Homo sapiens: one gene and its partners. The protein of the gene in region 4 interacts with the protein of the main gene of each other region in a biochemical or structural test. Each region holds a gene or a part of one and is shown on either strand. Other genes may lie near its edges.

Evidence for each region.
Region 1: the proteins of CHD4 (region 4) and RNF8 form a complex in vitro, tested with the Homo sapiens proteins (one study listed by BioGRID).
Region 2: the proteins of CHD4 (region 4) and H2BC3 form a complex in vitro, tested with the Homo sapiens proteins (one study listed by BioGRID).
Region 3: the proteins of CHD4 (region 4) and ADNP form a complex in vitro, tested with the Homo sapiens proteins (2 studies listed by BioGRID).

What each region holds. Positions count from the first base shown.
Region 1 is NC_000006.12:37,370,677-37,378,782, reverse strand, and holds part of RNF8 (E3 ubiquitin-protein ligase RNF8), read right to left. Parts: intron 7,272-8,106; coding exon 7,209-7,271; intron 4,164-7,208; coding exon 4,074-4,163; intron 1,858-4,073; coding exon 1,750-1,857; intron 1-1,749. UniProt on the Homo sapiens protein: E3 ubiquitin-protein ligase that plays a key role in DNA damage signaling via 2 distinct roles: by mediating the 'Lys-63'-linked ubiquitination of histones H2A and H2AX and promoting the recruitment of DNA repair proteins at double-strand breaks (DSBs) sites, and by catalyzing 'Lys-48'-linked ubiquitination to remove target proteins from DNA damage sites.
Region 2 is NC_000006.12:26,041,952-26,048,088, forward strand, and holds H2BC3 (histone H2B type 1-B), read right to left. Parts: upstream 1,763-6,137; 5' UTR 1,707-1,762; coding exon 1,326-1,706; 3' UTR 1,276-1,325; downstream 1-1,275. Other genes in the region: H3C3 (histone H3.1), read left to right, coding at 3,460-3,870. UniProt on the Homo sapiens protein: Core component of nucleosome. Nucleosomes wrap and compact DNA into chromatin, limiting DNA accessibility to the cellular machineries which require DNA as a template.
Region 3 is NC_000020.11:50,927,332-50,935,397, forward strand, and holds the start of ADNP (activity-dependent neuroprotector homeobox protein), read right to left. Parts: upstream 4,107-8,066; 5' UTR 3,495-4,106; intron 3,007-3,494; exon of another isoform or gene 1,495-3,006; 5' UTR 1,488-1,494; coding exon of another isoform or gene 1,320-1,487; intron 1-1,319. Other genes in the region: DPM1 (dolichol-phosphate mannosyltransferase subunit 1), read right to left, coding at 7,801-7,905.
Region 4 is NC_000012.12:6,596,860-6,604,965, forward strand, and holds part of CHD4 (chromodomain-helicase-DNA-binding protein 4), read right to left. Parts: intron 5,639-8,106; coding exon 5,517-5,638; intron 5,317-5,516; coding exon 5,101-5,316; intron 4,908-5,100; coding exon 4,789-4,907; intron 4,672-4,788; coding exon 4,430-4,671; intron 4,195-4,429; coding exon 4,067-4,194; intron 3,811-4,066; coding exon 3,675-3,810; intron 3,537-3,674; coding exon 3,358-3,536; intron 3,154-3,357; coding exon 2,914-3,153; intron 1,567-2,913; coding exon 1,363-1,566; intron 1,241-1,362; coding exon 1,035-1,240; intron 1-1,034. UniProt on the Homo sapiens protein: ATP-dependent chromatin-remodeling factor that binds and distorts nucleosomal DNA. Acts as a component of the histone deacetylase NuRD complex which participates in the remodeling of chromatin.

The DNA of each region.
Region 1 (8,106 bases), on a different chromosome or scaffold from region 4:
TCAGATGACTAGAAATTATGGGAGAAGTTACGATCTGAAGTCCAAACGGACCCAGAGGAAAAGAAACAGTTCTGCCCAGGAGAGATTTTTCAAGAGGCTAACAGACCCAACTTCCCTAAAGATCACCTGAGAAAAGAAAGCTGTGTGTATATGTTTTTCTTTTTTTTTTTTTTTTTTTTTTTGAGACGGAGTCTCGCTCTGTCACCCATGCTGGAGTGCAGTGGTGCGATATCAGCTCACTGCAAGCTCTGCCTCCTGGGTTCAAGCAATTCTCCTGCCTCAGCCTCCCGAGTAGCTGGGATTACAGGTGCATGCCACCATGCTTGGCTAATTTTTGTATTTTTAGTAAAGATGGGGTTTTGCCACGTTGACCAGGCTGATCTTGAACTCTTGACCTCAGGTGATCCGCCCACCTTGGCCTCCCAAAGTGCTCGGATTATAGGCATGAGCCATTGCACCCGGCCTACATTTTTCTTTCTCTTTTTCTTTTTTTTCATGCCTTGCTCTGTCACCCAGGCTGAAGTGCAGTTGCGTGATCTCGACTCACTGTAGCCTCCGCCTCCCAAATTGAAGTGATTCTCCTGCCTCAGCCTTCCGACTAGCTGGGACTACATGCACACACCACCATGTCTGGCTAATTTTTGTAGTTTTAGTAGAGATGGTGTTTCACCATGTTGGCCAGTCTGGTCTCGAGCTCCTAACCTCAGGTGATCCTCTTGCCTTGGCCTTCCAAAGTGCTGGGATTACAGGTGTGAGCCACTGCACCTGGCCTTCTTTTTAAAGGAGTCTGAATAGCACTGTCATTTAGCAACTTGAATTTAACATCTGTGGTCTAAGGTGAACTGGTCACAAACAGCAGAATTTGTCAAATAAATAAATAAGCCAGTGCAAAAATATGATAGGCTAACAAATGGTAGAGGTTTCATTTCCATAAGGAGCCTCAGAGTCCCTGAAATATATTCAACTTGGGCCGTAAATTCCCAAAGTGACCACATTTTAATGACGTTTACCCCCTCGTTTAAAAGGTTGCACTATAAGCATATTCTCGGCATAGTGCCCATTCAGAGTAAAGAAAGAATAGCTTTTATTGAGCAGCTTTATTCTGATACTTCCAAAATCTAATTTGGCCCTGTTTTCTCCTCAACAACAAAGAGATAAAGGCTTCATTGCAGCTCAAAATGTTAATCATACCAAATAAACATTTAAGAACAGATGAAATGCCAAAAAAGGACAGTGAAGGGAAAGAAGATTATAAAAACAAATAAGAGGTGGTCATCTCTAGAGGTGACTTTGAAATCAAATAGTTATAAGTTCCTGGAAGAAAATCTCTTCAGAATGTTCCCCTATAGTAGAAGCAGCCTGTGTAGCCCAGGCTTCATTCAGGGTTGGGAGAATAAGAAGGGGTCGGCTGGGTGTGGTGACTCACACCTGTAATCCCAGCACTTTGGGAGGCTGAGGTGGGCAGATCACCTGAGGTCAGGAGTTCGAGACTAGCCTAGCCAACATGGCAAAACCCCATGTCTACTAAAAATACAAAAGCTTAGACAGGCATGGTGGCATGTGCCTGTAAGGGACCCAGCTACTTGGGAGGCTGAGGCACAAGAACTGCTTGAGCCCAGGAAGTGGAGGTTGCAGTGAGCCGAGATTGTGGCACTGCACTCTAGCCTGGGTTGACAGAGTGAGACTCTGTCTCAAAAAAAAAAAAAAAAAAAAAAAAAAAAGAAGGGGTGAGCAACTGTTCATAATTACCTCAATGAAGTATTCTGAACAAATAATACATTGGAGCTCATTCTCTAGCACATCATTCATGTGGCTAAGAACTTCTTCCTTCTGTGCTTGCATCTTCTCCTTCTCTTCCTGCAAGACACACAATCCTACCTGTCATTCAGAGAACCAACAAAAATGCAAAATGGGACAGGGAGCAGGGTCAATTATTTAGAAGAGGATTCAGTCTTAATGAGTGATTCATTCTGGTGCAGCAACATTAAGAATAGAACACTTTCCCTAAGGCTTATTGTTTTTCAATAATTGTTTTCTAATACAGAGCACTAACCTCCTTTCTTTCCTCTCCCTACTTGCTATGGTCTGAATGTTTGTGCTTCCTCCCAAATTCCCATGTTGAAACTTATTTTCAAACGTGATGGTATTAAGAGGTGGGGCCTTTGGGAGGTGACTAGGTCATGAGGGCTCCATGCTCATAAATGGGGTTAGTGGCCTTAAAGGGGCCCAAGGAGAGCTCATTTGCCCCTTCCGCCATATAGGGACAGACATGGCAAGACTCCATCTACGAATCAGAAGACAGCCCTCACCAGACACCAAACATGCCAGCATCTTGATCTTGGATTTCCCAACCTCCAGTACTGTGAGAAATAAATTTCTGTTGTTTTTAAGCTACGCAGTTTATGGGTCTTTTTTGTAGTAGCCTGAATGGACTAAAACACCACTTTTTCAGTATTTGCATTGCAAATTCTGTCTCCTTCCCCAAAATTAATCAAATGAGAAAAATGCAGGTGACATACTAACCACACCAACCACCCAAGACCAGATGGGACATTAAGTAGTTTATAGCAAGCTGTAGTTCAGACATTACATAAGATTATCCCAAACAATTAAAAACTCACTGGACAAGAAAAGAGGCATGAATAGTCCAGAGGCAGGAAACTTGAATTAGTTATAAAGTTGCTGTGTTCTTTGCAGCTGCCTTTTCTGTAAAGTAAGGTACACCTCTGGAGGCAGAAGGCTGGAGACAGGCCTCTTGAATTACCTTCAGGCTCCATGCTCTATGATACCTGCCACTTCCCACTCCTGCAGAGGCCTGCAGTACCATCTCCCCGGCTTTCCCCAAGAGGTCAGACTGCGTGTGGACACACTTTTTAAGGAGGCTCCTACGTATGCTCTCTTGAAGCAGACATTTATTTTAGCACTTCACCCCCAAAACAAAAAGCATTAAGAGCCCCTGAGGGGGAGAGGATAGGCCATTTGAGGTATATTTGAGTGGCTGGCTCATTTTTAATTGTTTTATTTTCTTTTCCACTCAAAGCAAAGACTGGCAGACTGCTTAGGGCAGTGAAGAAGGTCTGGACCCATTTCTAACCATAGTCAAATTCCCTGAGAACTTATGAATCACTGGGTTTAAAAAGATGTGGCAGTTTCTTGGAGGTTGGAGAGGAAGGTATTATGTGATTTAAACAGGAAATCAAACCAGCTAAAACAAGTCCCTCCTTCAGTTCTAGGTTGGTACATGGAGGGGGTGGGATGACAGATGCAGTCAGACTCAGGTATTAATTTCAAGTCAGAGGTTGCAAATTGGTGGCCTGTGGACTGGATCCACCCTGCAGACTTGTTTAGTTTGGCCTTCATATTAAAACACACACAAAAAGCTGAAGTTGTTGCCAATATTTAAAATTTGGGATATTTCACTTAAACATTTGGACTTTCATCTGCTGTGGAAAAATCAGAAGATCTGACAACACTGGGCCTGCACTTCTGGATGGCAACAATTGGCTGAGCAGAGAAGAGTTGCCTCCTGGGATGGGGGTGTGGGCAAGTACCCCATCCAATAAGCCATAGCCCGCACAGCTCCCTACTGTGTTCTTACATTCAGGCCACTTCACTCACTTTGATTACCAGTCTGGCCCTGGTGGGCATTTAAGTTTATAACCCCTAATTCAAGAGTTCTCCTGATTTGACATGGGAAGAAACTGCATTAAGTAATTCACTTTACTTTATGTAATTCAAATTACATAGTTCAGGAGGAACTATTTCTTGACTACAATATTCCTCAGTCTGTATCAGTGACACACTCTGAAGGAGTACCCACCATAGACAAAGGACTAGAATACAGGATGCAAGTGCCTTATTCCCAGCATTTTGCTTCTGAACAAGGGAAGGAAATAGATGTTGTCTGACAGGCAGAACCTGCTATAGGCCTCTATAATTTTATAGATTATCTCCCCAGAGGCAAGGAGCAGCCATAATTTCTCTCTTTATTTTCCCTAGCAACCCTTGCACTGTTGAAAATGCTGAGTTGCATGCACTAACCAAATTCTAAACTTCCATCTTCTTTCCAGTACCTTGGTCTGCTCTAATTCTTTGTTCTTGGCTTGAATGATTGCTTCAAAGTCCTTCTTGCTGCGATTTAGCTCTTCCATTAGAGCCCAATGCTGCAAAAACATAGCAGATACATACTCAGGATGAACTACAATGCATCCTTCCTTTTAGCCACAAACATGCCTGTTCTCTCCCTCTAGTTAGTGACTTTGTGGTTCAGGGATCGATAAATTGGCAATTTCAAAATAATACCTTTATTCCATTGGGCTATCTTACCTACCTGCTGCTTTTTTCAGGGGAGAGGGCAGTTAGGGAAGGCGGCCACCAAATGGACTAGGGCCTCTAAAACTAACCCAACATTGGTGGCCATCCAAGTCAACTGAAGAACTTTCACTGTGTCCCAGAGTCTGCTTCTATAGGTTTGGCTTGGAGCCCAGAAATGTGCTTTTCTTTTTTTCTTTTTTTTTAAAGCCACCCAAGTGATTCTGGGAACAGTATTTAAGAACTAGTAAGTAATTAAAAGCTATTCAGAACTGGAAGCAGCTTTTATGAAATAATCAGGAGGAAATGGGAATCAGCAGAATTAGATAGTCATTTTTATTGAAATAAAAAAGATTTTTAACCTATTTGTTCTACAAATCACATATTACATGCTCAGACAATGCTGCCTGAACCCTGCCAGTGTTTTCTGGAAGAAGGCACACCCAGGAGCTAACAGCTCATTCATTGTGACTAAATGCCTATGCTGAATGTCAAGAGGTTCCACATATATGAAACATAATTTATGAGTTCTCTCATGCTTAAGTATAGCTTATACTTTAGAATCTCACCTCAAATTCTTTTTAAAAGAAGGTGGAGTAAAGGTAAGTATTTTTGAAAAGATATTATTCAAGAACCAAATTTTAAAATGTGTGATCTCCTGACAAAAAAAAGCAGTTATGTCAAAAGGCCTGGGTCTTCAACTTGACACACTAATTAGATATGTGTATTTTAACTTTCTCATCTATAAAATGGGAAAATATGGCCGGGCGTGGTAGCTCATAATACCTGTAATCCCAGCACTTTGGGAGGCTGAGCCGGGTGGATGGCTTGAGCTCAGGAGTTTGAGACCAGCCTCGGCAACATGGTGAAACCTCATCTCTACCAAAAATACAAAAAAATTGTCGGGCATTGTGGCGCGCGCCTATGGTTCCAGCTACTCAGGAGGCTGAAGTGGGAGGATCACTTGAGCCCAGGAGGCGGAGGCTGCAGTGAGCTGAGATTGCACCACTGCACTCCAGCCTGGGTGACAGAACGAGACACTGTCTCAAAATAAAAATAAAAGGAAATGGGAAAATAGGTGCCCCCTCCTCCCTCAGTGTTCATAAGAAAATAACAGGTATGAAAAGCATTCAGAGAAGTTTTTTGAGCTGTATATAAACACATCTTTTTATTTTCTTTTCCACTCAAAGCAAAGACTGGCAGACTGCTTAGGGCAGTGAAGGTCTGGACCCATTTCTAACTATAGTCAAATTCCCTGAGAACTTATGAATCACTCGGTTTAAAAAGATGTGGTAGTTTCTTGGAGATTGGAGAGGAAGGTATTATGTGATTTAAACAGGAAATCAGTTATAAAAGACCATTATAAAAACAGTTTTTATAATGGTCTGGTAAAGAACAGCTTTCAAAAGTATCAGCATGGTGGAACAAAAAACCACCACTGCATGAGAGTGGCATGTCCCCCAGGCATGATGGTATAGAACCATGACCTAAAAGTATCACTTTTTTTTGAGACGGAGTCTTGTTGCCCAGGCTGGAGAGCAATGGCACGATCTCAGCTCACTACAACCTCCACATCCCGGGTTCAAGCGATTCTCCTGCCTCAGCCTCCTGAATAGCTGGGATTACAGGCATGCGCCACCACGCCCGGCTAATTTTGTATTTTTAGTAGAGACAGGGTTTCTCCATGTTGGTCAGGCTGGTCTTGAACTCCCTACCTCTGGTGATCCGCCTGCCTGGGCCTCCCAAAGTGCCGGGATTACAGGCGTGAGCCACCGTGCCCGGTCTAAAAGTATCACATTTTAAGCTAATAAATGCATGGCCAAGTATCCCATGCAAAATGATAGAGTGTTTTCCTGTCTCAGGAGAGGGTGCAGGGTACTCAGTGATCCCTCAGGGATTTCCAACTAGCAGAACCACATTCTTTTTCAATTTCAAAACAATGTCTGAATATTAACTTAATAATGTTCCAAATGGGAAACATGCCTACTCTCCCACCCTAGAAAATAAACAAGCTCAAAAAATAAAATTCTAAAAAGATTGAATTAATTTTCATCTAATTCTTTCCAAAGCTGTTTGTGCAACCCTCAAGGAGATCAAGGCAGGCACCCTGTCATGCTTACAATACTGTATGACTGTTAGCACTGTTAAGGTTGGGAAGTAGGTTTACGATAAAAGGATAAATTCCCCTGAACAAATTCCTATGTGATTTGCTCACTCTTTCCAATGAGATTTGAACCATCCTGACTAAATGGCACTAAACTACTAATCATAATACATAAAAGGTAGAAGACATAGTAGGTTTTAAAGATGCAAAAGAGCACACAAAAAAATAATCAAATGAGAGTAGTCAGGTTAAATTAAATAAATTACAGGCAATCTTTTAGGAGAATTTTAGTCCTGTTGAGCTTTACCTTTTCAATAAATTGATATGTGTTGTTGATTGTTAAACTGCACATTCTCAACCTGGCCTAAAATGCTTAACTGGAACATTCCCCAATTGTTTCTGGTTGGCTACAGCTCAGGAACATTGCGGTAACAGAGGCCTTCACGGGCCCTGGTGGCCAAGTCATACCTCACATTTTCCCTCTGCTGCCCTCACCTTTCTAGAAGTGGAGCCACTTCCCCAGAGAGCCTCTTAACTGCTAAAGCTCCATTCCATCTTCACCAGAGCAACTTCTGCTCAGACAAAGATGTAAGTTTTCATGCTGAGGTCTGGCATGTTTGTAAGGCTCCAAATCTCTGATCTGATGGTGTGAGCAGCTGCCACCTGCTCTGTTTACAGACTGGGGATGCCACAGAGGTATGGGCTAAGCAGCAGAGGCAGCCAGTGGTCATGTGATGCCTGTTTGCTCCCCACTCCACAGCCCACTATAATCTTAGTACTATGGCAAAGTTACCTCCTGCAGAGCCTGGGCCAGCTGTTGCTTCAGGTCCTTTTCTCCTTGGGCTATCTCCAAACCCTGCAAAGCCAAAACAAAATGGAAGGTTTCTCTGCAGGGAAAAGAAAAAAAGGAACACAATCCAGCAACAAGCAGAGCAGACCAGCTAGTATGAGCATCTGGAAACAACAGGGGTGAGGGAGCAGGTGGAAAATCTCCTGTTTTACTTCAAGCTGTTGGCAGTAAAGAATTTGAGCAGTTATCTGCTCAAATACTGCACACTTCAGGACTGTCGGCTTTAAGCCACCAATTGGGTTGTTCTGGAAATACTATGGCCTAACAGTCCAAGCCTCCTTCATGGACTAACGCCATGATTCCCAAAAGGATGTAAACTGAGAACTTCTGAGCCCCCAAATACCTAAACTCAGATGTAATTCCCAGTGCTGGCACTCACAACATCTAGCATGCTTCTTTTCCCTCTACTCTGGCCATCTTGTCTCTCATTCTGAGTCTTTACCACTTCAGTTTATACACTGCTCCTCTGCTCCTCCTCTCTCCTTGCCTGAGCTTATGCTGTATTTCCTCATCAGCCCCCTCCAATGTGGAAGCTTTCCAGGTGATCATTAACCTATATGTCCAGCACCTTCCAAAAGAACTTCTGGGCCCTTCTGTCCTTAAGAATTACCTACCCATTTAATATGCCAACTTGAAATTGTTCTCTAATTTACTATATTGACTGAAAACTATTCTCTGATTATATCGTGTGCAGGAAACATCTTGCCTCCTCAACAAGATAAATTCCTTAATGGCAAAAACCATTTGGTAAGCATCTTTATAACCACTAGAATTCCCTAGTACCAGGCAATTTGAGTACTTAAAAAAAAAAAAAAAGTGTGAAGGAGCAAGGGTTTAATGA
Region 2 (6,137 bases), on a different chromosome or scaffold from region 4:
AAACATCCTAGTTTTGAGTTAGAAGACCTAGGTTTTTGTTTTGGCTTATCAATTATGGGTATTGTTTTAGATGAAACATCAAGTATTCTTGATTTCTTATTTCAAAAATAAAAAATAAAAAATAAAGGAAGGAAAAAAGAAGAAAAAAAGAGAAGAAAAGTGTCAGAGTTACTTGAACCAGAGTAACTCCATTTTGAGTGAGGGCTAGGAAAATGAGGCTGAGACTTTCTGGGCTGCATTCCCAGAAAGTCAGTCATTCCTAGCTTCTAGATGTTTACGGTTAAGGGAACAAATAAATAATGTTTACTAAACAGACTCAGACTTAGGAGTGTCCAGATATCCCTATATCTGGAGAACAAAGGCATTCTTAATTTTGTTTAAAGATAATAATGTTGATTCTTGCAAAATATAGTAACTAAGAAAATTAATCCTTTATCACAAACTTGTAGCAGAGCACATCTCCCCATATATACAAGTATTGTACCTAGGGTGGATGCCTTCCTCCTCTTACTTTCGGGAATGTCCTGCTCCGTCTATGGAGTAGTTGTCGTTTCACCACTTTACTTTCTTAGTAAACTTGCATTTACTTTGCACTGCGGACTCACCCTGAACTCTTTCTTGCGCGGGATCCAAGAACCCTCTCTTGGGGTCTGGATGGGGACCTCTTTCCTGTAACATATTTCTGGCCACCACAGAAGGGACTATAGTACAGAAACCCTGACCCAACAGCTACCTTTGGGTAAGTGTTGGAGTTCTGTAACAAAGGAAGAAGGCAGGCAGGCAAAAAATTTATGAAAGAACATACGACAAAATAATTTCTGCTTCAAAACTTCATATTTTTTTAATTTTTTTTTTTTTTTTTTTTTGAGACGGAGTCTCGCTCTGTCACCCAGGCTGGAGTGCCATGGCGCGATCTCGGCTCACTGCAAGCTCCGCCTCCCGCGTTCACGCCATTCTCCTGCCTCAGCCTCCCGAGTAGCTGGGACTACAGGCGCCCACCATCACGCCCAGCTAATTATTTTGTATTTTTAGTAGAGACGGGGTTTCATCGTGTTAAGCAGGATGGTCTCCATCTCCTGACCTCGTGATCCGCCCGCCTCGGCCTCCCAAATTGCCGGGATTAAAGGCAAGAGGCACCGCGCACGGCCCCGTCCAAGTTAACCTTGGCTCTAAAACTTGTCTTCGCTAACATTCCAGTTGATCCTCTAGAACTGAAACAGAATAGCAGCAGCACCACCTTAAGAAATTGTGGTTATAGCTCTCCTTGTGACAAAGTAGGTGGCTCTGAAAAGAGCCTTTGGGTTTGGAAGTGCTTACATAAGCACTTATTTAGAGCTAGTGTACTTGGTAACTGCCTTAGTGCCCTCGGACACAGCATGCTTAGCCAGCTCCCCAGGCAGCAGCAGGCGCACAGCCGTCTGAATCTCCCTGGAGGTGATGGTCGAGCGCTTATTGTAGTGAGCCAGGCGAGAAGCCTCGCCCGCGATGCGCTCGAAGATGTCGTTGACGAAGGAATTCATGATCCCCATGGCCTTGGATGAGATGCCGGTGTCGGGGTGGACCTGCTTCAGAACCTTGTACACATAGATAGAATAGCTCTCCTTGCGGCTGCGCTTACGCTTCTTACCATCCTTCTTCTGCGCCTTAGTGATAGCCTTCTTAGAACCCTTTTTAGGGGCTGGAGCAGACTTAGAGGGTTCAGGCATTGCTATTCCTAAACAGAATAGAAAAGCTACTAACACTCTCCACTACAGAGTAGTACAGAGAACAGTTCAGAGCCCATGTATTTATAGTCCTGAGATTCAAATGACGGTTTAAGATTCCTCACTTCTGATTGGACAAAAGAAACACGGTTTCACTGAGGGGTGGGGTTTATGCAAATATGGAATTTATGTTATCTTTTTCTATTGGATAAAGCACCAAACATAATTGACCAATAGGATAGCTTCCTATTGCAGCCTTGCAGTTTGTATAAAAGGATTTGTTCAGGCGCCATTCCAGCTTGCTTGTCTTTCACAGTTTTCCGCTGCTTTCATAGGTCGCTATTTGCGGACGTGGAAAATGGAGCTAAAGCAAAAACTTGTTCGTCGCTACCGGGCTTGCAGTTCCCAATAGGGCAGAGTCCGTCATCTTTTTCGAAAGGGCAATTATTTTGAGCCGGTCGGAGCCGGTGCGCCAGTGTACTTACAATACCTGGCCGCCGAGATCTTAGAACTGGTGGGCAGCGCCATACGTGACAAGACCCGCAGCATCATCCCCCGCCACCTGCAGCTGGCCATCCGAAACGACGAGGAGGTCAACAAGCAGCTGGGCAACGTCACTATTGCTCAGGGAGGCGTCCTGTCCAATATTCAGGCCGTCCTGTTGCCAAAATAACAGAGCCACGATAAGGCCAAGGTCAAGTAAACACTCAAATCAGAAAACGTAGCTTACACTTGAAACGGCATTTTTCAGAGCCGTCCATAGTTACACAAGAAAGGATGATAACTTGCTTCTGTTAGGGTATTTTTTGCTTTTCGTTTGGATTGGTTTGTTTTGAGACAGTCTAGTTCTGTCACCCAGGCTGGAGTGCAGCGGCGCGATATCGGCTTACTGCAACCTCCACCCCGCCGCTTCACGCGGTTCTCATGCCTCAGCCTCCTGTGTACTTGGGATTACAGGCGTCTGCTACCGCGCCCAGCTAGTTTTTGTATTTTTATGCGAGACGGGGTTTCACCATTTTAGCCAGGGTTGTCTTGAACTCCTGGCCTCTAGTGATCGTCCCATCTCGCCCTCCCAAAATGCTGGGATTACAGGCGTGAGCCACCGCCCCCCTAGCCTAATGGTGTTAAAAAGTTAAGTTTCGAGAAAATAACACCTTCCTTTAGAAAGTACATTTTAGAGTATACAAAGTGAAACTTAAGGCCAACCAAAATAAGACATTTTGAGAACAGGCAGGGTGGGAATGTGACTTGGACTTAGAAAACAAAGGGCAAGGAAACTTGCTGTTCGCCAGTAACAAAATAGCATGGAATCTCATTCTCTGAATATAAGCGTTATTTCCCGACATGAGTCTGAACGTTTCTGGTGGTTTAGTGAGTGTTCACCAGCATTGATAACTTGCGAGACTGTCAGGAATGCAGAATTTCAAGTCCCACTCAAACTTACTGAATCGGAATTTACATTTTAAAAATCCTTAGATACCTTGTTATACACTCTGTTCTTTGGGACTGGATGAACTAGAATTTTAGACAATTTGTCGCTGCAGATAACTGAAACGAAAAGGACAGGATGGGCGGTGGGGCAACTCATCCAATAAGATTGTCTAGTAATGAACCAATCAGTCTGGTCACTCTTCAGCCAATGATTTTATCGCGCGGGACTTTTGAAATATTACAGGACCAATCAGAATGTTTCTCACTATATTTAAAGGCCACTTGCTCTCAGTTCACTACACTTTTGTGTGTGCTCTCATTGCAAATGGCTCGTACGAAGCAAACAGCTCGCAAGTCTACCGGCGGCAAAGCTCCGCGCAAGCAGCTTGCTACTAAAGCAGCCCGTAAGAGCGCTCCGGCCACCGGTGGCGTGAAGAAACCTCATCGCTACCGCCCGGGCACCGTGGCCTTGCGCGAAATCCGTCGCTACCAGAAGTCCACCGAGCTGCTGATCCGGAAGCTGCCGTTCCAGCGCCTGGTGCGAGAAATCGCCCAGGACTTCAAAACCGACCTGCGTTTCCAGAGCTCTGCGGTGATGGCGCTGCAGGAGGCTTGTGAGGCCTACCTGGTGGGACTCTTCGAAGACACCAATCTGTGCGCTATTCACGCTAAACGCGTCACCATCATGCCCAAAGATATCCAGCTGGCACGTCGCATCCGTGGGGAAAGGGCATAAGTCTGCCCGTTTCTTCCTCATTGAAAAGGCTCTTTTCAGAGCCACTCACAATTTCACTTAAAAACAGTTGTAACCCATTCGGTTGTCTATGTTAGTTTCCAGGAGATATAAAGGTGATAACTACACACAAGTTTTGTAACTGCAGACAAGTCTATCAGGCCTTTTCAACCGGTTTTACTGCGAGAAAACAAGCTGAGTTACTGTTTTGCCCTTGTTAAAAAATTCCTAGGGGTCTTTTTAGCATGTATATGTGTAAATACTTACATATTGAAAGGCTCCTGGGGACACCACCGTCACTCCTTTTAATCCACGTGACAATTTTAGTTCTGATGGCAGTATTATTAAAGCTATCATAAAGACAATGTGTGTGTAGTTACCTAAGTCCACAAAAACAATAGCTGACCCCAAAATTCAGTATTGGTTTTGGGCTGCTGGAGGTGGAGTCAGAGCTCAGGTGGAAGAAACTGGCCTCAGTACACACTGCCAAAAGTCCACTAAATAGATTTATGTAACAAGTACACAAGACTTGCGTATGACCATCCAAAGATTATGCGGTCATCCTTATCCAGGGAATTTGAGAATGAAGGGTGGCAACTGCAAAGCTCTTTTACCCATGTCCTCTTTTAATAAATATTTAAAAATATTCAAATGCTGATTTCATCCATTTTCTAAATATATTAGTATACTTAACTGATGGGGTAGATCAAGGTTTTCTGGGGATCAAACCTTTTACAACTTGTTAACTATTAAAAACTATAATGTAAAATTAAAAATGCAAAAGTACTGCAGACTGTAAATATAAATTTATAATGGGAAAATAAAATCAAATTCCAATTTTATAAAAGCTGACAAAACAACAGCCATCACAAAATTCAGAAAATAGCATATTTTATTAACTTCTGAATATGACACTACCAAGTATATTTTCCTGTAGTTTTGACTGAATACTCTGATTCCATCTTCAGATCGAAATTATTTTGTAATGTTGTCTATAGGTAATGGAAATAGAATTCAATCTTTCCTCCAGGGTGGCTGATGATAATATGTTTTCTTCATAACTTAGAAGTATTTCAGTTTCAAAACACATTATTGGTAATGTCAAGTAAGTTTTTAGGATTGTTTTCAAATTTGGAAAATCCTCTGTTAAGCTCCTTTCACATGTAAGTTGTAAACTTTGTAAGAATTCTTTCCAGACTAGCTTCTGGCTCTATACGTTTCTACTCTCCACTAGACACTCACTCTCAGTGCTGGGAATGTGTTTTGAATACTTAGATGTCATAACATTTTATCTAGACCTGCATCTTGCCAGGAATTTAGGTGAGTTATTCCAGTGAGCAGTAGGAACATTCCTTGAAGCCATTCTTTTTTTTTTTTTTTTGAGACGGAGTCTCGCTGTGTCTCCCAGGTTGGAGTGCAGTGGCGCAATCTCGGCTCACTGCAAGCTCCGCCTCCCAGGTTCATGCCATTCTCCTGCCTCAGCCTCCCAAGTAGCTGGGACTACAGGCGCCCGCCAACACGCCCGGCTAATTTTTTGTATTTTTAGTAGAAACGGGGTTTCACCGTGTTAGCCAAGATGGTCTCGATCTCCTGACCTCGTGATCCGCCCGTCTCGGCCTCCCAAAGTGCTAGGATTACAGGCGTGAGCCACCGCGCCCGGCCTCCTTGAAGCCATTCTTACGTCAGATTGGCTGGCAACGAATGAAGTACACATGATCACATATGCAAATCACGTAACTTATTATCCCCATACTAGATACATCTTCAACTAAACTTTCTCTTACTCAAATTCCAAATATTTTCATCAGGATTCTAACATAATCAGACAATGGTGATTTTAATAAAAAGGAGGATTGAGTGAAAATAGCAGCCTGAACCATCCGTGATTAAAGTACCTTAATACTGCAAATTTTAAAATCAGAGAGAGAGAGAGAGACAAACTAACACATTTGTAGGGCCCCTCTCTGCACCTTGGAAGTACAGGCCCTTACACTTGTGTTTCATTAGCTTCAGGATAAATCTGCCCCAGATCACTGGCCAAATTTTACGTGGCCTTCTTCAGCATCCTACCACTCTATTCAAATACATCTCTGCAGGAGCACCCTGTGAGTTGAGAATTACTGGTCTGGGATGACCACTGTTTGCATGATGCTTTGGATGGTGGTGCTGTTCTCAGAAGAAATACCAGAAGGAGAAAGGTTAGTCAGGAGAATATAAAGTCAACCTTAAGCAATTTGAACACTTCAGTGGTTAAGTGAGTTCCCTGGGAC
Region 3 (8,066 bases), on a different chromosome or scaffold from region 4:
ACTATAAAAACCAAAATCAAAGAGGTTAGTTTCAATATATAGCTCCTAATAAGCTAGTCTCAGGAAATTTTTCAACAAAGGCCAAGATAAAAAAGGAATTTCTACTTAAAGTTCAGTTAAACAGAATACCCATTCCCCACACTCTAGTTAATTGAACCTTTTACTATACTTTAATGAAGTATATAGTTTACCTACTATAAATTCCAGTCTTCAAGCCCAATTGTTTCACTTTTTTTTTTTTTTTGGTAGAGACAGGGTCTCATTATGTTGCCCAAGCTGGTCTTGAACTCCTGGCCTCAAGTGATTCTCCTGCCTCAGCCTCCCAAAGTTTTGGGATTACAGGCGTAAGCCACCTCACCTGGCCTCACCTTATTTTTTGAGTGTTAAAACCAAGAAACCTTTGAAACAGTAGAATACATGCTTTCTAAGAGCTCACAGCAAGTTTTCCTTTAAGGGAAAATGGCTGTTACCACTTAGGACATCATTCAACACTGTATCCCATTCGCTAAATCAAACAAAAGCCCCTCAACAAACTTCATTTCAAACATTCCGTCAAATAAGTTGTCTTCAAATTATATGGTCATTTTCAGAACTTAAATAACTGCATATAAAACACCAAATAAAGATAAAAACTATACCTGCCTACAAATACTATACAGTATTTAAAAATTTAAATAATCCCATTTAAATATGTGATTTTTCACAATGACTAAGAAATTGTAGAAGCAATGTCTCTAGTCAAATACCTGTACCAAAGGGCCTCCTTTTCACTCACCAAAATGTTACCTGGTAGCAATTCTCCAATGAAAAATTCTCCTGTTAAGCACCAACTGGTTAACTAGGTATCAAAGAATACACCCATTCAGTTCTCCATAAACTTATCTTGGTGTATTTATGTAACATACAAAGTCTTAAAGGTACCCACAAACATCAACCACTGTCAATCTTTGGTAGCAAGAACAAGTTCATGGAAAACCATGTTTTCATCAGACATTTAAGGCTTTTAGAAGCTTAGCAACTCTAGAGATTGGGTTATCAAAGTAATAGTAACTGAATACTTATACTTTATACAAAGGGGTGTAGAATGCAAATGATTACAATATTAGCATCTGTAAAAATTTCTCTTAAAAAAGCTGTAAGTAATTTCTTATGTTAATAAGTGTTCAGAACCCACTACTGCAACCAGCTCTAACCGGTTCCTTGAGGAATGTGGCTAGGCTGAAATTTTGGAAGTGTTGGTTTTGGTGGTGACCAAGGAGAAGGAAGTCTCTGGCTTCCCTGTTGCTGCAGTTCCCACCCTCCAAAATGAATATACCCACCGGTGTGAATTGACAATGTGGTCCAAAGAGCAAGGCAGGAAACGGAGTCCAGATCCTCAAAATGGTAGTACAGGGCATAACCACTAGGCCACCTATCAGTTCAGTACAAAAAGTACAACCCTGCGCATCATGGTGTAAAAGCTGGGGCCTAGGTTTCGCATTGTGCATCTCACACCTATGGAAATAACAAGAGGAGTAAAATCTATGGAAATCAACACACCCTAAGAAGGTGGGTGCTCACAGAAGACTGGTATCAACATTTTTGTAAAGGTGGTTGGCTGCTGAGATAATGAATGGCAATTACAAGTCCAAATTTGGAGGGAAACGAAATTTTTACAATCAACACTTGAGTTCGACAATGAAGAACCCAACATGGGCTTGATGTTTACCAACAAGGCTTTGCAAATCATGACACCCATCTACACACTTAATCCAACATCTCTCAAGAATGATTTTTAACTCTCAAAGAATTGGAAAGATTTGGCCTATGAAGAAGGGAGTTAACCAGCTATGCCCCCAAACCTGTTACTTTGTTTCAAACCTTCTCCTTTACCACCAGACTTAGGAAAGATATGGTGACACATTCAAAACTTGAGGTGGAAGAACTCCAGAGGAAGGGAATCCGAACCAAGGATGTGCCAAGGTGATTCGTCAAGAACAAATATGGACTGGGGGCCAACAGTTTTGAAAAAGTAAAAGGAGAAAACTTCTAAAATGCAGGGTGGGCTCTTTAAAAGAAGTAAAATCACTGCTCTTGACTCACTTAATCCTTCGCCATGTTGCTGTCAGCTCACCAACTAAGAGTGCGAGTGTGTCTTGCTGGGCCCATTTTCCCATGGTCTGTAGAAGGCGCTGTGAAGCACATCCTGTTCTAGCTCGGGGGCCCTTCCCCCCTCTGCAGCCTTACCCAGTGCAGAGAATGCGCCCCCTACTGACTCCAACACTCATCGCCTTTAGCCGACTTGGCTGCGGTGCATTTTGGGTGGGGGCTGGTATTTTCTCCATGGCCATAAACCAGAAGCAACAATGCAGATTTCTAAAGAAACTGTATCAAGCTATCCAAGAGATTTTTTTTTTTTTCATTCTGAAGGTTCAAGATACAGGCACAAGAAGCATCAGGGATGGGAACTGGGTGTGTGGGGATGGACATCATTAACATGACAAACACAGAAACAGTTTGGTTCTTTTTCCCTCCTAAGCCTTTGTCTGTGAAATGGGGTTATGGCAAGAAGTGTCCAGAGTAACTGGTAAATTCAAGAAGATTAAGAAGACTTCGTGTGTGGGGGGTGTGTGTGTGTGGCTAAAAAGGATATCAGACCTAGAGTCTTGGTCTTGGGCAGAAGAGGAAGAGAAGCAATCGCGCCTTTTCCAGCAGACAGGGATCAAGGTTGGGGGGGAGGGGAAGGCAGGCAGGCCTCCCAGAGGAAAGAAGAGGTGAATACGAGTGTGTTCACAAAACTACTCCCCATTCATTACATTAAAAAAAAATCTTTTTGCAGCTCTCTGGATTTCCATTTTCTACCACCTTACTGCAAAGTTGGGGCTCAGAATGTTCGAAAGAGGTGCTGACCAGGCAGCTGAGATTGGGGAAAAGGGATGGTGGTGAACTGTGGTCAGGATAAGAGGAAAGCTGGCAGGTTGGGGAAGAAGGATTGCACAGGGGAGGCAAAGACTCACTCCATGCCATGCATGCTCCCCGCCCCCCCCAACCCCGTCCCCCCTCCCCCAGGTAAGGGTGGGCAGACCTGGCAGAAGGCTGGTTCAAGGCATGGGGGTGTGCGTGGGGGGGCTCCTTTTGGGGGTGGGGGGCGGACGGGATTAGTTCCAGGATGGGAGAAGCTCGGTTCTGGCTGGGGGAGATGCCCTTAGCTGCAAAAGCTCCGGGCGGCCAGGCAGAGTGCTGGCCTCGGTGGGCTCACAGGGCGGAGAAGGGGGTCGGGCTGCAGGAGGAGGCGCCTGGACCTCCGGAGCAGAGTCGGGTAGCGGTCCGTGCCGGGACGGGGGACCCGTCGGCGCCGGGGTGTGCAAAGGAGCGTGTGTGCGGCTGGAGGGCGGCGATGCGAACAACAATGCGCCCGCGCCCGGGGCCAGGCTGCACTGGCGGCCGCGCGGGCCGGGGTCGGGAAGCCAGGCAGGGCAGGGCCGCGGGTCCGCGCGCGGCGGCGCCGGGCTTACCTTGACTCGGCCTCGAGGCGCGCGCGGGGCCGGCGTGCTCGGGGGCCGGACAGCGGCGGCGGCGGCGGGCGGATGGCGGCGGCACGGCGGTGGCGGCAGCGGGGAGGGCGCGCCCGGGGCCTCGTCGCGCTCCGGCTCGGCGGACTCCGGCTCGCGCCGCGGCCGCGGGTGCTGCCGGGGGGCGCGGCGGGCGCAGCAGAGCGGCGGGCGGCGGCGGCGTCGTCGAGCGGTGCAGACAAAGGAGGGGCGGAGGGAGGAGACGGAGGGTGTGGGAGAGGCGGCTTCACCGGCGCGGGCGGCGGCGGCCGCGCTCCTCTCGCTCCTCAGCAGCGGGGACCGAGAGAGGGAGCTGTGTCTGAGAAGACGCCAAAATCCCCCTTAGCGCTGCCTGCGGGAGGGGGAGGGGGCACAAGATGGCGGCGGCCGGGGGGGGGGGGGCGGGAGTTCAGCTCATGGATCCCGGCGGGCGGCGGAGGGGAGACCGGGCCGGCGGAGGCGGCGGCGGCAACGGGCGGGGGAGGGGGCTGATCCCGCGTCTCCCCTCAGCAGACAATACAAGCGCCTCGGACCGAGTCCCCGAACCTGCCCTAGCCAAAATGGCGGCCGAGAAAGAGCGGAAGTGACGTAAGTGCCTCATTAGCATAAGAGGACTCATTGTCCAGCTAAATAGGGGGGGGCAGTGGGGACAGCACCCCTAACCCCCTTTTCCCCAGGGGGGGTTCCTCTTACTCCCACCCCTGCTTGCACCTAACTTTTCCTGAGGGAGGGTGCTCTCAGCACCCCCACCCCCGCTTGAGGGAAATTATATAATCCCCACTGAGGGGGGAGCTCTCGCGAGAACCAGGCGGATTTGCCATTGACCCACTAGGAGGCGCCGCGGATAATGGCCGCAGTGCGCTCCCGGGGCCCGTGTGCTCGGCGGGCGCCTTCCTCTGGCCGCAGCGCCGGCGGCGGAGGCAGAAGCAGCGGGCCGCAGCACGCCCAGCACTCAGTCAGGTGGCCGTGCTGGGGATCCCTGCGCGGGCCCAGCTGGGCCTGGACTACATCTGGCGGGAGGGGTGTGCGGGGCGGCCTGGGGCGGCTCCACGTGCTCAGATGCCCGCGCTTCCACGGCTGAGAAGCGGCGGGAAGGCGCCGGGACACCTGGCCGGTCGCCCCTGACGCCTCCTGCCTTAAATGAGGTGTGAGGGCCTCGTGCTTCACACAGCGACTTGAGATGAGACACAACCCCATGGATGCCTTAGCCCTTCCTGGTGGGGTATTCGGTGCAGAGGGGCCGAGATTTTATTAAGGTCCGCCGTTACCCTGTGACTTGACATTCTTCCCAGTCACAGTGATGGACTCTTCTCTGACCTGAATAAAAAAAAAAATGGGAATCCTAGTGCCTTGAGGCCACCCAACTGGTGAAACTTAAGGATGAGAAGTGATGTTGCCAATAGGGGCATTGGCTCTCTGCAAGATCCTTAAACAACACACTTTGTAGTCCTAGGGACATAGCTTTTGGTGCTCCCACAATCTGGGTAGCATAAGACAGCACATGGTTGCTTTGTAAATTTAGGTCAATCCCAACCAATACATTATCTCCTCAACATTTTTGAACCAACCTTTTAAAGTAGGTTGTTCAAAGTAACATTATGATTTAAAGTATCATTGGTTGGTTAAATGTATTGACAAGTAATAGATGTCAATAGTGAGGAATTAACCAAGCCTGTTTCCTTAATATGTGATCTTTAGGTAAATACACCTGTCTTTTGCTGTTTCTTTACATTTCAAGTTAACATAGTTTCAAGCCATACTTAACATCCGAAAATAATCTGAGTTCGCTGCAAGTAGTATAAATTGTGGTTACACATAGCTGTTCAACATCTAAGACTTCAGTTAGCCCTGTTTAACAAACTTTTATACAACACATTTCTGCAATTGTGATAAAATGTATCTTTAAAAGCCAAGTCAGTATTTCAAGGGAAAACAGCTGAAAAAAGTCGTGGAAAAAGGGGTTGGGGCAAAGCATTTGATTCAGAAAACTAAAGAATCTAATTACACACTGCAGAAGACAGATAAAAACTAATATGAAATAAGCAAAGTAAGTTTAAGTTTAGTTTTTCTTAGATATACTTAGATTCCATATAGTGATAATACAAATACAAGGGAAAACATCTGGATTTCATCTTTGGCCTCATTTACAAAGCAAAATGGGATGCTGGATTCAGATGTAAATATTTAATTTTACAGTGTTTAAGCACCAGATTTACTACAAAAATGCATCTAAATATTCCAGATTCTTTTCTAAATGACTTCCAAATGCTATGAGTCTTCACTGCTCAAATACTCTATGGTAAATTCCAAGAGTGACAGTGTTGTGATAATGATTGTGTGAATAACTAAAAAGATTTAAAAGGCAAACATTATCTACTCTAGTGAGTATCTGAGAAGGCAGTACTATCTATATTAGGTTCTCTAAGGTTGTTACTTAATTTCTGCTCCACATACTTGACACTGAGAACTCAACTTTGAGTTTAGGTTAAGAAAAAATAAATTCTAACCACTCCAAAAAAACTGAGAATATTACATTTCTATTATCTTAGCTTAAAACTAATTTCACATCAAGCACTGATGAATTTTCTTCTTGTTATGAATGAGAGAAGTTTCTTCCCTAAGGAAAGCAGTTCCCTCACTGGCCAGCTGGACAGTTCTGGACATAAGGGAAACAGAACAAGAGTGGCCCTTATTGGAATGTGTACTATGGGTTCAACTATAGAAGCGTGGGAGGGGGTGGTTTTAATGTTCGAAATGACACCACAGGTTTTATAGTCTGGGATTCATTTCTGGTAGAATCTGTCAGAGAGAAATGCAAATGAAAAATCAGATTTTCATTTTTTTTTCTTTTAAAAAAGACAGGGTCTCACTCTGTTGTCCAGGCATGATCACAGCTCACTGCAGCCTTGACCTCCCAGACTCAAGTGAACCTCCCACCTCAGCCTCCCAAGTAGCTGGGACCACAGGTGAGTGCCACCACACCCAGCTTTTTTTATATTTTTGTAGAGACAGGATCTCCCTATGTTCCCTAGGCTGGTCTCAAATGCCTGTGCTCAAGCCATCCTCTTGCCTTGGCCTCCCAAAGTGCTGGGATTATAGACATGGGCCATTGTGCTGGGCCTCAATTTCTTCAGCAGCCAAGTTAAGCCAGGAAAATGTAGTAATTAGGAATACTGTTCAATAAATAATTTAGAGACACCTCTTACTTTTATTTCCAGAAGAAAGTCAACTTAAACTTACTTGCTCAAAGCATGCCCTTACTCAAATTTTAAAAGATACTACATGACCATAACCTATGCTACAGTTAGAAATTAACTGATCTCTTCTGAAATACCTACTTTAGAGAAAGTGGGTAAACATAATATTTGCCCTGGCTTTATTGGATAGCTTAGCCCAAATTTTAACTGGCAGAACACTTTTCTAAATGGAGAGAAGAGCTTAAGGCAGAGATTTTTCAAATTAGTAGGGATGTGAGCTTTGCTGAGGGTCTTTAAATAATATGAAAACAAGTCTTTTGAGAAAAAAATTGTTATATAATTCAGTAAGATGTTTAAAAATTACTGTAGCAGCTAAGTTTCTGCCTCAGTGTCATTAATATTTTTCCTTACTGATAGAGGTTATTGCTCAAAAGAGAAAAAAACGGCTATGTAATCAACTGCTGTCAAATTGTTTCCCAATTCACAATATGCATTTTAAATAGACCTGCTTTGATAGATGAAATGTTTCATCAATTCAACAGCTGAAAAGAACCGAACTGTAAATGCCTGCTCTAAATGTATTTTCTAGTTTAAGAAATTTGAGATACATTTTTAAGGAAAGGGCAGAGGTGTGTATTTCTTTTTCAATTCATACAGACACAGCCATAAACATTTCATCAGTTAACATTATCTTACTTCTGAGATCAATTAGGTATAAAGATCTATGATTCCAGTTTTTAAAAAGACTATTTCAAATTATTCCCCATGTAAAAAATTCTACATTCACATACTCTAATGAAGGCAGCAATACTTTATGCAAAAAAAAATATACATTTATTTATAGGTCTCAATACAGCAAAATGAAAACGAAAATTGAGAACATTGCTCATTAGGCCAGCAACTTTAAAATTATTTAATTTGAAATATAAAATAGGTGGTCTTCATAAAAAGATGCATGAAATTTACCTTACCTTATATTTTATACTTTAAGAGTACATTTTATACAAATCAGTAACCAGGCTTCTTTCATGTTTAACCTGAAATGAACGTAACTATAAATGAGTATCTTTCTTTTATGTAGTAGCAAAAAGAGTCAATAATCCTTTCAAGAAAGATACTATTTCATTTCCTCCCAACTTGGATTCACCATAAACACGATCCACAAATGATATTGGAACCTAGTTTAAAAAAAAAAAAGTAACGTTAGTCTTTAAAAACAATTAGGCAGCTTAGCCGGTATACCACATTACCAACACAACAGAAATAGGATTAGTCCTACAACAGAGGTCCTTAAAGTAAGTATAAAATTAGGGGATTATGAAAGCAACTGTGTGTATCT
Region 4 (8,106 bases):
TGAGGCAGAGAATCACTTGAGCCTGAGAGGCGGAGGTTGCAGTGAGCTTAGATCATACCACTGCACTCCAGGCTGGGCCACAGAGCAAGACTCTGTCTCAAAAAATATAATAAATAAATAAATAAATAGGCCGAGTGCGGCGGCTCACGCCTGTAATCCCAGCACTTTGGAAGGAGGAGGTGAGCGGATCACAAGGTCAGGCGATCAAGACCATCCTGGCTAACACAGTGAAATCCCGTCTCTACTAAAAATACAAAAAAAAAAAAATTAGCCAGGCATGGTGGCGATGGCCTGTAGTCCCAGCTACTCGGGAGGCTGAGGCAGGAAAATGGCGTGAACCCAGGAGGCAGAGCTTGCAGTGAGCCAAGATCACGCCACTGCACTCCAGCCTGGGTGACAAGTCTGTCTCAAAAAAAAACAATAATAATAAAATAAATAAATAAAGATAATAACATGAAGTGTCAGGCGCAGTAGCTCACGCCTGTAATCCTAACACTTTGGGAAGCTGAAGCAGACAGATTGCTTGAGCCCAGGAGTTTGGGACAGCTATGAGCAGTGATCACGACACTGCACTCAAGCCTGGGCAACACAGCTAAAATTTGTCTCAAAATAAATATATAAGGCTGAGCGTGGTGGCTCACGCCTGTTAATCCTAGCACTTAGGGAGGCCAAGGCAGGCAGATCACCTGAGGTCAGGAGTTCAAGACCAGCCTGGCCAGCAGAATGAAAACCCTGTCTCTACTAAAAATACAAAAAATTAGCTGGGCATGGTGGCTTGCGCCTGTAGTCCCAGCTTCTCAGGAGGCTGAGGCAGGATAATCACTTGAATCTGGGAGGCAGAGGTTGCAGTGAGCCGAGATCACGCCACTGCACTCCAGCCTGGGCACAGAGTGAGACTCTGTCTCAAAAACAAAAAACAAACAAAAAAAACCAGTGTCTTCCAAGTCTAAGTTACTGGTGACAGCCATTTTCCCAATCTCTTTAGCAGGACTCTCCCACGGAGACTGCCCGTCTCCCGTGTGCTCAGCTGGTACCTGTGGTTGAGGATTCGGTGGATCATCATCCACTCGGGTTTTATCCCATAGCGATAGAAGCGTTCCTCCATCTCTGCAAATTTAGGGTCCTTGTTCTTTCGCTTTCGGCTTTTCTCTTCATCACCACCAAAGTCCCCAGAAGGTGGCTCATCCATATCATTCTTCCGCTGATAGTTTCGGAACATCACCTGACAGTGCAGCTCCAGCTTTGAGCGGAAAGAGAAAATCAGCCACCAAGAAGCTGTGTTCATTCCTTCTATCCACAAGGCTCTTTTGTCACTATCCTCTTCATCGTAGCCCCTACATCTCCAGACTATCCTAAACTTACCTGCAGTTCAGAAACCCAGGAGCAGTGCCAGTAAGACATGCCTTGCCATTTCACAAAGAACTGCCGCTCTGGCCGCCCCTCCAAGGGCTTTGGGGAGGGCGTGTTGGGATCAGCATCTGGAGGCCGAGGCACTGGTGTGGGAGATGGTGGCTGACCCCACTTCCAGATTAGGATCTTCTGCACTTTGCCCTTCAGAGCTGGACACTGAGAGAAAAAGAGACAACTTAATCTCAAATCATAACCATGGGAGGAGAAGGGACAGCCCACAGTCTCAACTTCATCAAAGGACGATTCAGATCTCATTTCAGACCTGGAGCAGTGGCTCATGCCTGAAATCCCAGCACCTTGGGAGGCCGAGGCGGGCAGATCACGAGGTCAAGAGATCGAGACCATCCTAGCTAACATGGTGAAACCCCGTCTCTACTAAAAATACAAAAATTAGCTGGGCGTGGTGGCATGCGCCTGTAGTCCCAGCTACTTGGGAGTCTGAGGCAGGAGAATCACTTGAACCTGGGAGGCAGAGCTTGCAGTGAGCCAAGATTGCCCCACTGCACTCCAGCCTGGGGGACAGAGCAAGACTCCATCTCAAAAAAATAAAAAAAGATCTCATTTCAAATAAAATCTAATCCCAGGACTCCTCCAGGGAGAAAATACAGGTTGAGGACCCCTCATGTGAAATGCTTGGGACCAGAAGTATTTTGGATTTCACATTTTTGGATTAGGGTGCTCAACCTGTAATAGAATTCCCTCTCCATTTCTGGACATCGTCCAGGATTTGCGTGCCACCATCACTCCTATCTGCTTAACAGAGCCAGTAGTTAGACTTTAACAATAAGCCAGAACAATCAGGAAATCAACAGACTTAGAGCACAGAATTCCTCCCTTAAGCAATCTAAAGCAGTAAGTGGCCCTATTAAACATTCTAAACTGGCTGGCATGGTGGTAAACACCTGTAATGCCAGCACTTAATGAGGACAAGGGAGCAGAATGGTTTCAGACCAGGAATTCAAGACCAGCCTGGGCAACATAGTGAGACCCTGTCTCAACAGAGATTTTTTTTTTTTAATTAGCTGGATGTGGTGGCATGCACCAGTACTCCTAGCTACTCAGCAAGAGGTTGAGATAGGAGGATCACTTGAGCCCAAGAGTTGGAGGCTGCAATGAGCTATGACTGCACCACTGCACTCTAGCCCGGATGACAGAATGAGACCCTGTCTCCAAAAAAAAAAATTTTTTTAACAAAAAAATTGAAAACATTGTAAGCTACCAAGACCCTGAGGCAGGGTGTCAACACAGGGACAAATGTTCTCAGCTAGAAGAACATTGCTTCATCTCCTCTTAAGAGAGCTGGCAAAACATCAACTCCTCAGTTTGAAGTTAGTCCTATATTTTCCCAGGACAAAAGTATCCCAACACTATAGGATGAAGGAGAATACCTTTCTCAGGGCTGAAAAGCTCATAGTTCCTCTCCTGCACCCCAGCCTCACAATAGCCTACATAGAAAAGACTACACTTTCCCATTTTTTGCCCCGGCTGAGATCAGTCACTCACCGTACAACGGGGACAGAGCCATTCACCGTTGGGGATCTCTGGAAGTGGGGGATTCAGGCAGTGGATGTGGTAGGAAGAAGGACAGGTATCACAGCAGAGCAGTTCCCCACCATCCTTGCAGACCCGACAGAATTCCATATGGTGGTCATCCTCCTCTTCGAGGTCTCCCCCAACCTCTTCCAGGATCTCCTCACCCTCCGAATTGTCCTCTTTAGCTTCCCACTGGATGCCTTCCTTCTCCTGCAGTAAAGGACCACAGATTCAGATTATTACCCCCACCCGCCCACCGCAGTCTGAAGCCAGTGCCCATCATTCCTTTGAATGCTTCCCAAAGCTCACAACCCGCAGCACCAGCATTTCCATTTCCATCCAGGCCCCGAAGAGCTTTACTGTCCCACCCTTCTTCTCATGGGTTCCAAGGGGCCACAATGGCCAGACACTCACGCAGTGTGGGCAGCTCCACTTGCCCTCGGGAGCCTTCTCCATGTCGGGATCCAGGCAGACCATGTGGTAAGCACGGGGACAGGTATCACACAGGATGATCTCACCGCCTTGCTGGCACACCTCGCAATAGTCCTGGTGGTCTGTCTCATAACCATCCACAGCAGTCACCTCCTCCTCGCCTGGGCAAGGAAGAGGGAAAGCCCAGTTATTGGAAAAAAACTACCTCCCCCCACCCCCCGACCCCTATCTCCTTAGGGAGATTCTTCCCCAATCACTCCCACCTCATCCCATCACAAATATACAGAAGAGAAACACACCTTTCTTTTTCTTTTTAGTGGTTCGGAGTTTCTTGCGGCTGCGGCTACTACGGCTGGTGGAACCATCAGAAACAGAATAGCTATTGATACTGGCATCATCGAAGTCAGATTCCACATCTAAGTCATCATCCTCACTCTGGCAGGATGAAAAAGAATAAGGTTAGACGTTCAAGCCAAGGGGAAGGACAGAGTGGCAGAGAGGGGAGTACTCTCTCACTGGGGACACCAGAATCCCAGCAAGCACCGTTATACAGGGAGCCTAGTCTCATCTTGTTCTGTGGGAAACGCCCCACATTCTTACGTGCCTACTATGAAGGACAGGTTCTGATAGAAGGTCACATCCTTTCTATTAGACATGGCACCCTCCCTAAAGCGATGGGCTGGGCTCTCACCGAGGATCTCTTACGCTTGGAACCAAAACCTCCCAGCTTGATTTTCAGGGGAGCTACTTTCTTGGGTTTAGGCTTCTTGGCATCAGGTACACGAGGGCTGCCCTTGGGCTTCCTCCGAGCATTGGGACCTAAAATCAGGATATATCCAAATATATACCACAAGACCAAAGATGGGGAAAATAAAATCTTCTCCACCTAAGCTTGCTTCCCCACATTCAGATTCCCAAATTTCCCTCCAAAATCCAAGACTCATTCCTCCCTCCTATCTCCTACCTTAGGGCTGACAGACCAGCATTCCCATGCTGTCTTTGACATCTTAAGCCCACACTAGACACCCCCACTCCCATTTGAACCCCATTTCACCTTTGCCCTCCTTGGTCTTGGCCTTGCGGATAGGCACCTCCACAGGGGGAGGTGGTGGTGCAACCTCAGTGGCTGTCACCATGCTCTCCACCACAGCTACCGCTGCTGCTGCCGCAGCTGCCACTGATGCCCCAGAACTGCCTTTGAAGGGGTTATTGGTACTGAACTCCCGCCATTTTGCACCCAAAACCATCATCATCTTGGAGACAGCAATCTTGGGATTTTTGGCAGCAATGAGGGGTCTGGTGGAGAAATGCACAAGAGCAGAGGGAAAGGTTTAAGAATAAAAAAAGAAAGAGAAGTAAGAAGAGAGAACAGAAAGATTCTCCTCCCCCTTCCCCAAACCCCTTCTGTTTTACCTGACAAACTGGCTGAAGGCCTTGTAGTTGGTGAGGGTTCGATAATCCTCCTCTGAGAACACGTGGTCAATGTCTTCCATGCCCCAGTCTTCCAGGAGCTGAGCAGATGATTTAGGCTCCTGCAGAAAGAGCAAAGTCAAGTAAGTACCTGCCACCTAGTGCCCACACTTGCTAAGCAAATTTGTGTGGAAAAATCAGAGTAACAGAGTTAAGAGGAAAAGAAGAGAAAGTGTTCTAAAGGGCAGTAAGGTGTCTAGGAAACAAAAAGACAAAAGTTTAACAGTACAAAGAAGAGGATGGAGGTCCAGGCACCTTTGAATCATCATCATCATCCTCCTCCTCCTCCTCCTCCTTCCGCTTGGATTTGCTCTTCTTCTCTTTCTTAGGTCCAAGCTTCTTCTTCTTCTTCTTGCCAGGAGTATAGTCGCTGCCCTCACTGTCTGAGCGCAGAGCCACCTCTTCCTCCTCCTCCACAAACTCTGGCCCCTCCCCAGAGCTGTCCCCCAGCTGCCGGCATAAGAGCATACGCTGGAGCAGGGCAAGGGGGGAAGAGGGAGACAGACACACACATGCTACACACATGCTGACCTCAGGACAGCCCTGAGGCTCATCCCCAGAACATGGCCCACCACTTCTGAGAAAGAAACAAATGCCCTCAGCCCTTCAACCCTTCTCAGAGCTCCTCCCTTCTTCCTCTGATTCCCCGTAACATTCAGTCACCCACTCACCTCCTTTTTTTGGCGCTTGCTCTTAGGGATTTTAGGGTCCCGAGGTTTCTTAGGCTTTTTCTTCTTCTTGAGCTTTGGAGTCTCTGTTTCTGACAAATCCTCTTCTGGGTCCTCTTCATTTTCTACATATATTTGGCAAAGAGTGGTAGGCAGGGAAAAGATCAATAGCAAAAGGTTAGGCCCTAATCCAGAGGCTTTAGACTTTATTCCCCACCTCTTGTCCCAGATTCCTCTGAAGAGAACTGCTATACTCTGTACAGGAGGAAGCTGATACCCAGGACAAAAACAGACAAAGAGAGAGCTGTATATACCCGAAATAGGCCTGCCAGGCCAGACCAGGCCCACCTCGGGCAGCTGTCCAGACCCCTGCCTCCTCTCTCCCGTTCCTACCAGTCCTCTAGATGTTCACCAGTACAGCTGAACTGAGCTGCTCAGAGTTCACCAAGTAAGAGAACTAGATTTAGGCCTCCTGTAACTGGCCACCAAGTTATTCTATAAACCAGGGAATGAGAATGAAAGATCCTACTCAGAAGGCAAAAACTATAGAATATACCTTCCCAGAACAGGATCAGTTCAGGGGTCTCGGAAACCACACCCTTCTCTAACCACTTTGAAGTCATCACTGCTCAAATTAACCAGAACCTCCAAGTCCTAGGTTCAGGTGCCAGCTCAATCTCATGCCCACTTCTAAAATACAATTTCCTTTCCCCATCTCCAACCCTAATGTTCCTCCTCAGCTTCTCCTGGGTCAGCAGCCTCTTCTCCCTAGGGGCCCGAATCAGCCCAGCTGTCACCATCTCCCCTACACCCGCCCCCCAGCAAGCCTCCTCCCATCTGGCTCCACCTCCTCCCCTGGCTGGAGGCACACACAAAGCCTGGGTAAGACTGAAAGCTCCTGGGCAAGGATAGGTGGGAAGGGACACAGAGAAGACCAGGAGGCAGCTTCCTTTGTAACAGACATTCACACTGGCTCCGACTCCCTCCTCCCTCCTCTCTCCCTCTTCCCAAGCCACCCCCGCCCAAAGGGGGGTGGGTAGAGAAAGGAGTGGAGAGAAGAAGGGAGTGCCTCACCCACTGAGGAGAGGGAAAATGGCTCCTGACCGCAGAAGCCAGCCCAGGGCACCCAGCTGCCAACATAGGACAGACAGGAAGTGGCAGGGGAGGGGGTGGGTTTGAGAGAGGTGGGGTGGCGGGGGGGGAGACTGCCCTCATAGAAGCCTCCCCAAATTACCTGGCCCCAGGTCCAAATGCCACCTACTCTGGGATGACAACAGTTCACAAGAGCCCACCCTAACATCCTAAGCAAGGAAACCCAAGGAAAGCGAGACAAACATGAAGGTAATACTAAGAGAAGAACTCGATCACTCCCTCAATCATAATTATTTTTTCAATCATCAGAGCTGAGATTTAACAAAGGCTCAGTGGACTTGTGGTCAGCGCATACAACCTTCTCCCCAAATTTCTGATACCCAAAAGATTTAGTTTGAGGAATGGAGGCCCACAAGAAGTCTCTGAAGCTCAGCTTCCTCACCACTCCCACCCAGATTCCTATCCAACATATGGGAATGTCTGCACAAAAAAACAGAGCAGGACCTAGACAGTGGTAGAAGAGAATATCCCAATCGGGTGCAATGGCTCATGCCTGTAATCGCAGCACTCTGGGAGGCTGAGGCGGGCAGATCATTTGAGGTCAGTTCGAAACCAGCTTGGCCAACATGGTGAAACCCTGTCTCTACTAAAAAAACAAAAATTAGCCAGGCATGGTGGTGGGTGCCTGTAATCCCAGCTACTCAGGAGGCTGAGGCAGGAGAATCGCTTGAGCCCGGGAGGCGGAGGTTGCAGTGAGCCAAGATCGCACACTGCACTCCAACCTTGGCGACAGAGTGAGACCCCATCTCAAAAATAAAAAAGAAAATAATATCCCTCCTTCAATCCCTGACATGTTCTTAGCTCTTAACCCCCAAAATTAGCCCTAAAATGTCTCTGGCTCCCCACTTCCTGAGCTAGACAGATACTAGGGAATGAGACATTAGGCTGGACAAAGCACCATCAGCCTCCCTGCTTCTCAGCCCAGAATAAGACCAGGCACAAGAACGCCCCTCCCATTCCCCCTTGGGAATGCAACATCAGCCTGGATTTCACCAGAAAGAATCATTTTCTTAAGGACTTTTCCCCACCAATCCCCAAGTCAACCCCCAACCCCCATCAGCTACATCTCACCACCCCCATAAAAGCTGGAAGTGGAGACAAAGACAACCCATGGAGGCAAAGGGGACATCCTTCCATGCACATGGAGCCCCCCAAACTTCTCAGGCAAATAATATGCTGAAATGGCAAACCGCAAACTTACTGAGATATAGAGAAGATTTAGGAAAGGGACAGGAATGGGGTGTGGCAAGTGGAAAAAGTGGGTCATGCTACAGCTCAGGACAGAGTTCACAGCTCCTGCGCAGCTCCCGGTCAACATGAAAGGCAGCCCCAGCCCAAGTGGCCAATGGGAGGCCAAGACGTGGAACCCAGAATGTTTAGGCAGCACTACTGTTTCTCATGCCCCTCTCAGAAGGACAGGGTCCCCTTACCAGCACCACAA